Regions from separate parts of the Homo sapiens genome. Here region 2 is reported to be linked to region 1. The links are microRNA targets in miRTarBase. Many come from high-throughput screens and were not tested one by one. Region 1 holds a microRNA gene; the other region holds the end of a gene's coding sequence.

Region 1 (4,067 bases):
TAAATCTGCCAAATTTCTTCAAACAGGCATTGAAAATAAGGGTGAAGTGCTAGAAGTTTTTTGATCAACAAACTTTGACATGGCTTTCTCTGTGATCCAAAGTGAGCAACTGTAGCTTATTAAGCAATGGCAAGAAACAACTCATAGATAGGGTGGGGAAGTCAGAGATGATAGCAACTGATCAGAACCTATCCTCTCACCATGTGCAGTCCCCCCTGATTAGGGGAGTTCTGTGAGCAGTTGAGAGCCATCCCAGGGAACAGATGCTGCAGGCAGAGTCCACATGTAAGAATGCAGGTGCCTGGAGTAGTCAGAGTCAACGTTCATTATTGTGTCACTCCACACAAACTAGTCTGGCAGCTGTCCAGTGCTCAGTGCTATCAAGAGCCTTCTCCTTTCCTGTGTCCATTAGCCCTGAGGACTCACTGTTTTGGTGTCTGCTGTTAACTCTCACTTAAACAGACACAAGGCAGAAGCACCCCAGGAAACATAAGTACAGACTTCTCCAGACCAGTAAGGAATTAGGAGGAAGTGATGTAGGAGTGGCCCATATTAACTAACGATAAAACAGCCTGTAGTTACTGAAGGGTTATCAAAAGCCAGACCTTGTGCTAAGTCCATGAGAGGAATTATTAAATTTAATCCTCACAAAAGTTCCATGGGATAAGTACCACCATTAGATACAGTTTACAGCCAGGAAAACTGAGGTTCAAAAAACATGAGGGACTTGCCCAAGGTCACACAACTATTAAGTTGCTCCAGGATGGGTCTCATACTTTGTTCCTTTTCTCTAGGATAAATAGGGGAATCTGGAATGGGAATATCCAGATCGACTGGACTTGGACCTACAACACCAATATCAACCTCGCTAGGGAAAGGCCCTGACACATACAGGGAATAATATGGGGGAATGGCATGAAAAGTCTCGAGGGAGATACATAGCAGGCTAACTCTTGGTGAAAAGGTGAATGCGGGGTGCCAGCCAGTAATCAATGGCAAAAAGAAGGTGAAAGAATAAAGTAATTGAATGATAGTGTTATTATGATTTTGACCTTTTTCAATATTTTGTTTGTTTGTTTGTTTGTTTTCAGCTGCGTAACTCTGTTCTACAGGAAATCTTTGGCTGAAGGACGATGTCAACTAGAAGCAGAGCCGCTCTAGGTAGGAATGAGGGAACATGAGCAGAGCTCTCTGAGGCACCTCTACACAGCAGTTTACAACCCTAAAATTGTATATATGATTAAATGGAGGCCCAGGGAGAGCGCGAGTTATACTGGGGTCATCAAAATGGAATTAACAATGGTGAATTTTATTGTGCTCAACTAACTGTGCACCAGACTGTTTCACCATTTCACATGTAGACTTAATCTCCACCACAGCTCTATGAAGAAGACATAATCATGTCATAAAAGCTACAGATAAGGAAACTGAAACACAGAGAAGTTAAATAAGTTGTCGAGGCAAGTAAAAGAACCAAGATAAAATCCAGACACTTTGGCCTCAAAGACCAAGTGAGTAGCCAAGATGACAACTGCATAACTAGAGCTAGAGGAAGTCAGATCTAGAACCCCGATCTCCGACCAGTGGTCCTGCACGTCTCCCTCCATGCTGTTTCTACTCTCATGGGGCACAATGACAATAGGACTTAGGGGGAGGGACTGAAAAGTGTTTACATCTGAGAAATCTGGAGAAGCGAAATTGTTCATAGCTAAAGTCGTGCCTTTTGTGCCAAGGGCATCATTTGGGGGGACACTCCCTGCTGTAGGTGCCAAGGTGCCTAGATCAAGACTTCAAGCAGAGGAAGCAGAATATGGTTGTTTTGGGTTCACTTTAATGACCTCAAGTGCCTTCTACAAGCCCAAGTCATAAGACTAAAGAAGAAAGTTGTCTGTCAGAGAGTAGAAAGCCCTCAGCTAGGGGATGCTCCTTAGCTCCTTCTCTCAGGAACCATGGTGGAGCTCCAGGAAGACACAGAGTTCTAACAAGGGTTAGGAATGATTCCTTGGAGCAATGTTCCCCTATCTCCCAAGCAAGCCTCCCCCCACCAATCTAACCCCACATTTCCCCAAAGCCACCACTCATCCTGATAAACACCACACAAGAGAACACAGGGCCCTACCTTGATTCTCCTCTGAAAAAAAGCAAGAAGGTTGCTTCAGGGAGACCAACCAGCCTGGTTGGCCTGGAACTGACATATCCCAGCAAATTCCTCAGTCCCAGGCAAACCATAATGGCTGGTCACCCTAAGTCACTCTCCCATGAGTTGACAATTTCTTAGAGCAACAACTCTCCATTGCCTCAACTTGATGCACACACTCACACATGCACTCACACACAAATCACTCTGTAATAGGTGGAGGCAGGAAACTGCCTGTTTTTCTCCAGTAACAGCAACCCTGACAAAAATAGGCTTGAATGACTAAGGCCAAGTTTATGGCCACCCATAGGCCACAGAGGAACTCACTGCCTGAACTTTCTTCCTGTCCTGGGGGGATCTCGGGAAGAAAGGAAGGAAGGGCTTAGTCACACCCTGGGAGTGGCAGCCAGGAGCAGTGCTGCTCAGCTCCTGACAGAGTAAACTCAAAGGCTCTTTCTTCAGGAAAAAATAGATGCTTCCAGGCTTTGCTCCCTTTTTACAGAGCCAGCATGACAAACACTTACCCAGGGAGGAAGGAGAGGCAGCCAGAAAGCACAATCATCTCCCCATCTTTGGGAGAAAAGTTTCTCCAACCCAGCAGGTCCCTGAGCCTCTACTGGACCATCCACTTTGGCCAAGCCACAGGCCAAGGGCCCCCTGGGAAACTCACCTGGGCCCCGGGTCAGACTCCGCTCCCTGGGGATGCAGAAGCAGCCACCCATGTGTGTACCATCCTACCCTGGCCGAGGCCCTTGGGAACACAGGCCAGAAGAGTGCTGCAAGGGACAGCCTCCCAACGGTGTCCCTCCTCCCGCCTCCTCCCTGGCACACGAGGGACCGAGGCCTGCTCAATGCACAATGCAGCCTTTGATATCCCGGCTACAGCAGGAGGCCCAGGGAGGGTGGGAGGGGCAGCCCAGCCCAGCCTGCAGGCCCACAGCTCCTGCACTGTCAGGCCTGGGGAACAGGGCTCCTCCCTGCCTCTCAGCAGATCGCTTCATGCCTATCAGCCTGCAGCACATTCCTCGCATTCTAGGATTGAGATACACAGTTTGGTTCTTGTGAGGGCAGCCAGGGCTGGGGAGGAGGGCAGAGAACATCCCAGAGATCAAGACTGCTCTTCTTGCTCCCTCCCCGACTGACTTGGCCCACACTGACTGGCCTGCCACCCCTTTACAGTGATCTCCACCCAGTCTCTCTCTGCAAAGGCCTCCCTTGGCTCTCTGATAAAGTTGGAGCTGTGGGTGCAGCATTTCACTTGGACCTAGCAGCATCAATGAGCCAGCTCCTCACTGGGGAACATGCAAACCCCCAGCTGCTGGTGTGCAGGAAAAGAATCCAGGAGATCACCTGATGAAGCCCAGCATTTTACAGGTGAGGGGATGGAGAACCAAATACATCAAAGGATGGGGAGAGGTTGGTCAATAGGTAAAAGGTTAGAGTTACATAGGAGGAGTAAGTTCTAGTGTTCTATTGCACAGTAGGGGGACTACAGTTAATAACGTATTGTATATTTCAACATAGAAGAGAGGATTTTGAATGTTCTCACCACAAAAAAACAATGATGTTTGAGATGATGGATATGATAATTACCTTGATTTGTTCATTACACAATACATAGATATATTGAAACATCACATTCTAGCCCATAAATGTGTAGAATTATTATGTGTCAATTAAAAATAAAACTAAAAGAAAAAATACAGCAAGTCTACAGGTATGCAAGCAAAACTGGTCCCACAAGACTAACCTCTTTCCTGTTTCAGATAGGCAGTGGAGCAGGGGAATCCAGTTGACACTGTGGCTAAATTTCAGAAAACCTCCCATGAGATCTTGCAAAGGAGATGGAGAAAATATGGCTGAATGCCAGCAAGGTAGGACGGAAGCATGACTGCTCTAACAACCAAGCTCAAAGAGCACTGCTCACCCA
Region 2 (4,067 bases), not on the chromosome of region 1:
CTAATTCAAAAGTGATATGGAAAATTCAACTAACATTGAAAGTTAGCCTGTTCTGTATTTGTAAGAGAGTAATGATACTTCCTTCATAAGGCCCTCATGCTGATTAAATGAGAAGTATGGCCAGTACCTGGCAGGTAAGCAGATGCCCAGTAAATATCAATTTTCTACACTCCTCCCCACCCCTTTTAGTCAGTCATTTCTTTCCAGTGAGATGTCTCAGTTGGTTCCACAGCTACTTGGAACAGACAGAAGTGCTCCCTGCTTTATAATCCATCAGTTTTCAAACTTTGTTTGAAAGTACTCTTGTTGTACTCAAGAATTACCCAGAGAGGTTGTTAAAATGCAGTCCTGGGCCCCACCTTGCAGAGATTTGGCAAGTTGGGGTAAAACCTAGAAATCTACACTCTTAATCTTTATTATTAGAGTTGCTTAAAATATATTTGTATTTCATGGTTGTGTCAGCATCAAAATACATATCCAAAGATATGTTTGTACATTACTATAAAAAAAATTTTAAACTGGCTACAGCACTTTCTGAACTGCAAAGTAACTAAAAATGGTAAGATCACCCTGTTTTAAAGTTTCCTTTATTTCTTTAGATCTTTATGAAACATTCCATCGTTTGCAGATCATAGTGCTTTATTAACAAATTCATGTGTTCTTTTCCCATCCCTTTAATACAAAAAAATTATTCATCAGTTATTTTCATCTGACATTTCACTAAGTACAGAATGCATAATGTCAACATTATTAGATCAGCCATTCAAGTGGGTCACATAAGTTTATCCTCATTGTGCCAAATACCCACTCAAAGGATAAGCTGAATAACAGATGCCTCCAGGTGTATACAACAACCTTAGTTTCTTGACTTGAACTAGTCCTGTTTAACAGGTCAAACTGCTAGTCTTTCTAAGTAAACTAAAAAAGACTCAAGTACACAGCTGTACATACATATCATCAGATGGTAAGTTCATTTCAACAAGAACCTCTATAACTAACTGTACATTTGTACAGTTTTCTGCTATCATTGCAAAAGCCCCTCTGAACAAACTTATAGTTTAGAATTTAAAACAATCCTGATGAGACAAAACGTACCAGGTGGCTTTTCTGTAGCAGAAATTAATTACAACCATTTTTCCTCAAGCAATTTTAAAGACAAACAAAGTTGAAAATAAATATGCAAGCATACAGTAAACAAAATGTCTATACTGAGAAATTCAGACACAAAGCACAGTGGAGTCTATAACTGTAGAAGTTAGAAATACAAACTAGCAATGAAGCAACAATCTCTTCCAAATAGCAGGAAACAAGTTCTCCAATACCATTATTTAGATAATTATTTAGTGATTTTGGAGTTTTTTTTTTAATCCCGTTTGCTGATTATGACATTTGACCAGAATCTCAAGAAATACCTTAAATCATACTGCATGAAATAAATGACCATTTAATTCCTGATTAGTTGAACTCCTTAATGACTTTTCAGTTTTGTATATAATAGAAAGGTTCAAGAACCTTTGTAGATTTGCTTACAATTGCTGCTGGTATTTATGAAAGCTTTTAAAAGTTATGTTATATTCTTCTGCATCTGTTGATTCCACATTAATGTAATTCTCAAGTATTTTATAAACAAGCCTTGGGTGTTAGAATGGTCTGTTTCAAATTTTCAGGCATGCTATTTCGACTTACTTACTGCAAGGTATCACCCCCCTTTCCTCCCCTCCACTATAAAAAAAAAAAAAAAAAAAGGTGGCAGAATGGAGACAAATTTCCAGATTTAAGTAAAAAGAAATTTAAGATTTTCCCAGGCTTGGATTACAATCCTTGGTGGACAGGAATGCCAAGTATATATGCCAATTGTTAAACGTTTTATGAAATTAAACATGAAACGAAAAGAAAATGAATTCCAGCTAAATCATATTAAGAAGGAACGAGACATGAGACATATTAATAAGATATGACACATTTATCATCCATAATCAAACAATTCAAATCCCTGACTGAAATTGGCTTGAAAAATGATACAAACTCTATGGCTGCTTTAAAGGACTGTAAGATAACATGTTTTTAAAGCCTATATAAACCACTGATGCACTTTTATATACTTTATATTCAAAACTAATCTATGGAGCTCATTCCATTCCATTTAAAATAGTAAGTCCTCACATATTTGTGGTTACTTTTACAGTGTTTTTAAAAAAGGAGTACTGCTAATAATTTAAGACATCCTAAAGACAGAATAGGTGTGAAGGCTTCTTTTTATATTTGGGGTGTTTTAGGTAATTTTTAAGAACTTAAAATTATTATTTGTTCCTCCTTAATATGAAACTCTTCCAAAATACCTTCTGACCAGTAAGTAAATGTTCCTTAGGCACTGTGAGGTGTATTAATGATGAAGCATGAACCCAGGCTGAGAAGTGTACAATTTGATTTTAACTACTGCCAAAACAGTTAACAAGCTCTGTCTTATCCACTGACAGCAGGAAATGTCTTTACCCCACTACTCCTGAGATTCTAAAAAGGGAAAACTAATTTCACAAACAACCTTTAAAAGAATCCATAGATGATTCTAAGAACAGCACATATTCAGGGTATTAGAAAAGATGTTTTCTTTTGTAAGGCATCAATGATTAAAATAATAGAACGCATATTTACTAACAAAAGATGGTTAACATTATCATAAAACCATTTATCTTTTTAAACTTCTCTAATTCCTGCTAATTTTGCCAGCTTAAATAAGAAATGAATGCCTCTTGGCCTAATCAACTATGGTTATAAAAAACTAAGACATCTGAAACTATTAGGCACATCAAAGGTACGGCTTATGTAATTCAAGGTTCCCTTCTTAAGGGGCAGGTGAGTTACCTGGCACATTATACATATGGAACTGTGAAGATCATCTACTAAATTCAACTTTCACATTTTTAGTCAAACTGAAAGACTTATAGTAAATATTCAAACATACCATATCTTCAGTTACAACCGAGTAAGTGTAACATTTTACCAGATAAAAACCTGGAACTTAAGTATGAGAAACCTTCATATACTGTGCTCGTATTGGTCTCTTCTTTTTAGATGAAAGCCAGTCATCAATACTTTCAACACAGCAGTTTAGAAGATAAACGTCCAAAACAGTTGACTTGGTTGTAGTCCATAATTTAGCAATTCAATGCCACTGGCATTACAGTGCTGTGGAGCGCAAGTGTATCTCTATATTTCAGTCAGATTTGTCTTTCTTCTTTCCTGTTAAGGGCACTTTGTTTACAACAGCAGACCCAACAGCTGTAACACCTCCAGCCACAGCAGAGACACCCCCTTTCACCAGCCCTATTCCCATGGAAGGCACAGTTGTAACAGCTGTTTTGGTCACTTCCAGACTCTTTCCACCAATCCAAGCCACACCACCAATGGTGGCACCAACAGCTCCCTTTGTAACACTGAAGATACCCCCAGTCACACGGGACAACATGCCTGGCTGCTGCTGTGGGTGATCTTTCATTGAACCTAATGAGAGAAAATATCATGAGACAATCAAATATAAGTCACAAGTCTTTAAAAGAGCAGTACACATCATTAAGTAACCTAAGACTTCCTCACAACAGGAGGTTGATTTGATAAGGCCAACCACACTGATTCAAAGACACTGAAGAGCTCTTCCTTCAGGGTATAGTTGTACATGTTTTTACAATATCTTGGTCCAATGCTAAGTCTTAGTATCTATGAGAAGAAATGCTTTAGAGACTAGACAACTTTTGTAAAACAGAATCCTATTTTAAATGTTTCCTTGGTTTACGGTTTTGTTAACAAATAACCTTTATTTTACATCCTAAAAGGAACATGAAAAAATAAAAAGATAACTACATTTGGCCTTCATTTCCTTGATAGGATTTAATCAGTCATTACCGAAACAATCTTCTTCGTAAAATGCAGTAGTTTTCAAGGTATGGTCTGGGACCACTACAGATGCCGAAGACCATTTCAGGGGGTCTACAAGGTAAAAACTATTTTCATAATATTATTAAAATATCATTTGTCTTTTCACTTTCTGTCATGAGTCTATAGCAGTTTTC

What was found. Region 1 holds the annotated microRNA hsa-miR-584-5p (UUAUGGUUUGCCUGGGACUGAG, at 2,210-2,231, opposite strand). A microRNA usually pairs through its seed, bases 2 to 8, with sites in the 3' UTR of a target mRNA and lowers its output. Matches are read on the target gene's strand: a 7mer-m8 pairs with bases 2 to 8, a 7mer-A1 pairs with bases 2 to 7 and ends in A, and an 8mer does both.
Region 2: the mRNA of TMEM263 is a reported target of hsa-miR-584-5p. Seed matches in the 3' UTR shown: 7mer-m8 at 2,765-2,771.

The regions. Positions count from the first base shown.
Region 1 is chr5:149,060,164-149,064,230 of GRCh38, forward strand. It overlaps MIR584 (microRNA 584), which reads right to left and starts at 2,246; the gene lies at 2,150-2,246. SH3TC2 (SH3 domain and tetratricopeptide repeats 2) reads right to left here and starts at 2,899. Exons shown (of 17, transcript NM_024577.4): 1 at 2,808-2,899. The coding sequence starts at 2,859. It overlaps SH3TC2-DT (SH3TC2 divergent transcript), which reads left to right and starts at 3,154. Exons shown (of 3, transcript NR_122044.1): 1 at 3,154-3,511. RefSeq lists a silencer at 2,863-3,157.
Region 2 is chr12:106,970,539-106,974,605 of GRCh38, reverse strand. It overlaps TMEM263 (transmembrane protein 263), which reads right to left. Exons shown (of 4, transcript NM_152261.4): 4 at 571-3,501. The coding sequence ends at 3,215. Among named protein-coding and RNA genes, the nearest start is that of MTERF2, 15 kb to the left of the region's middle.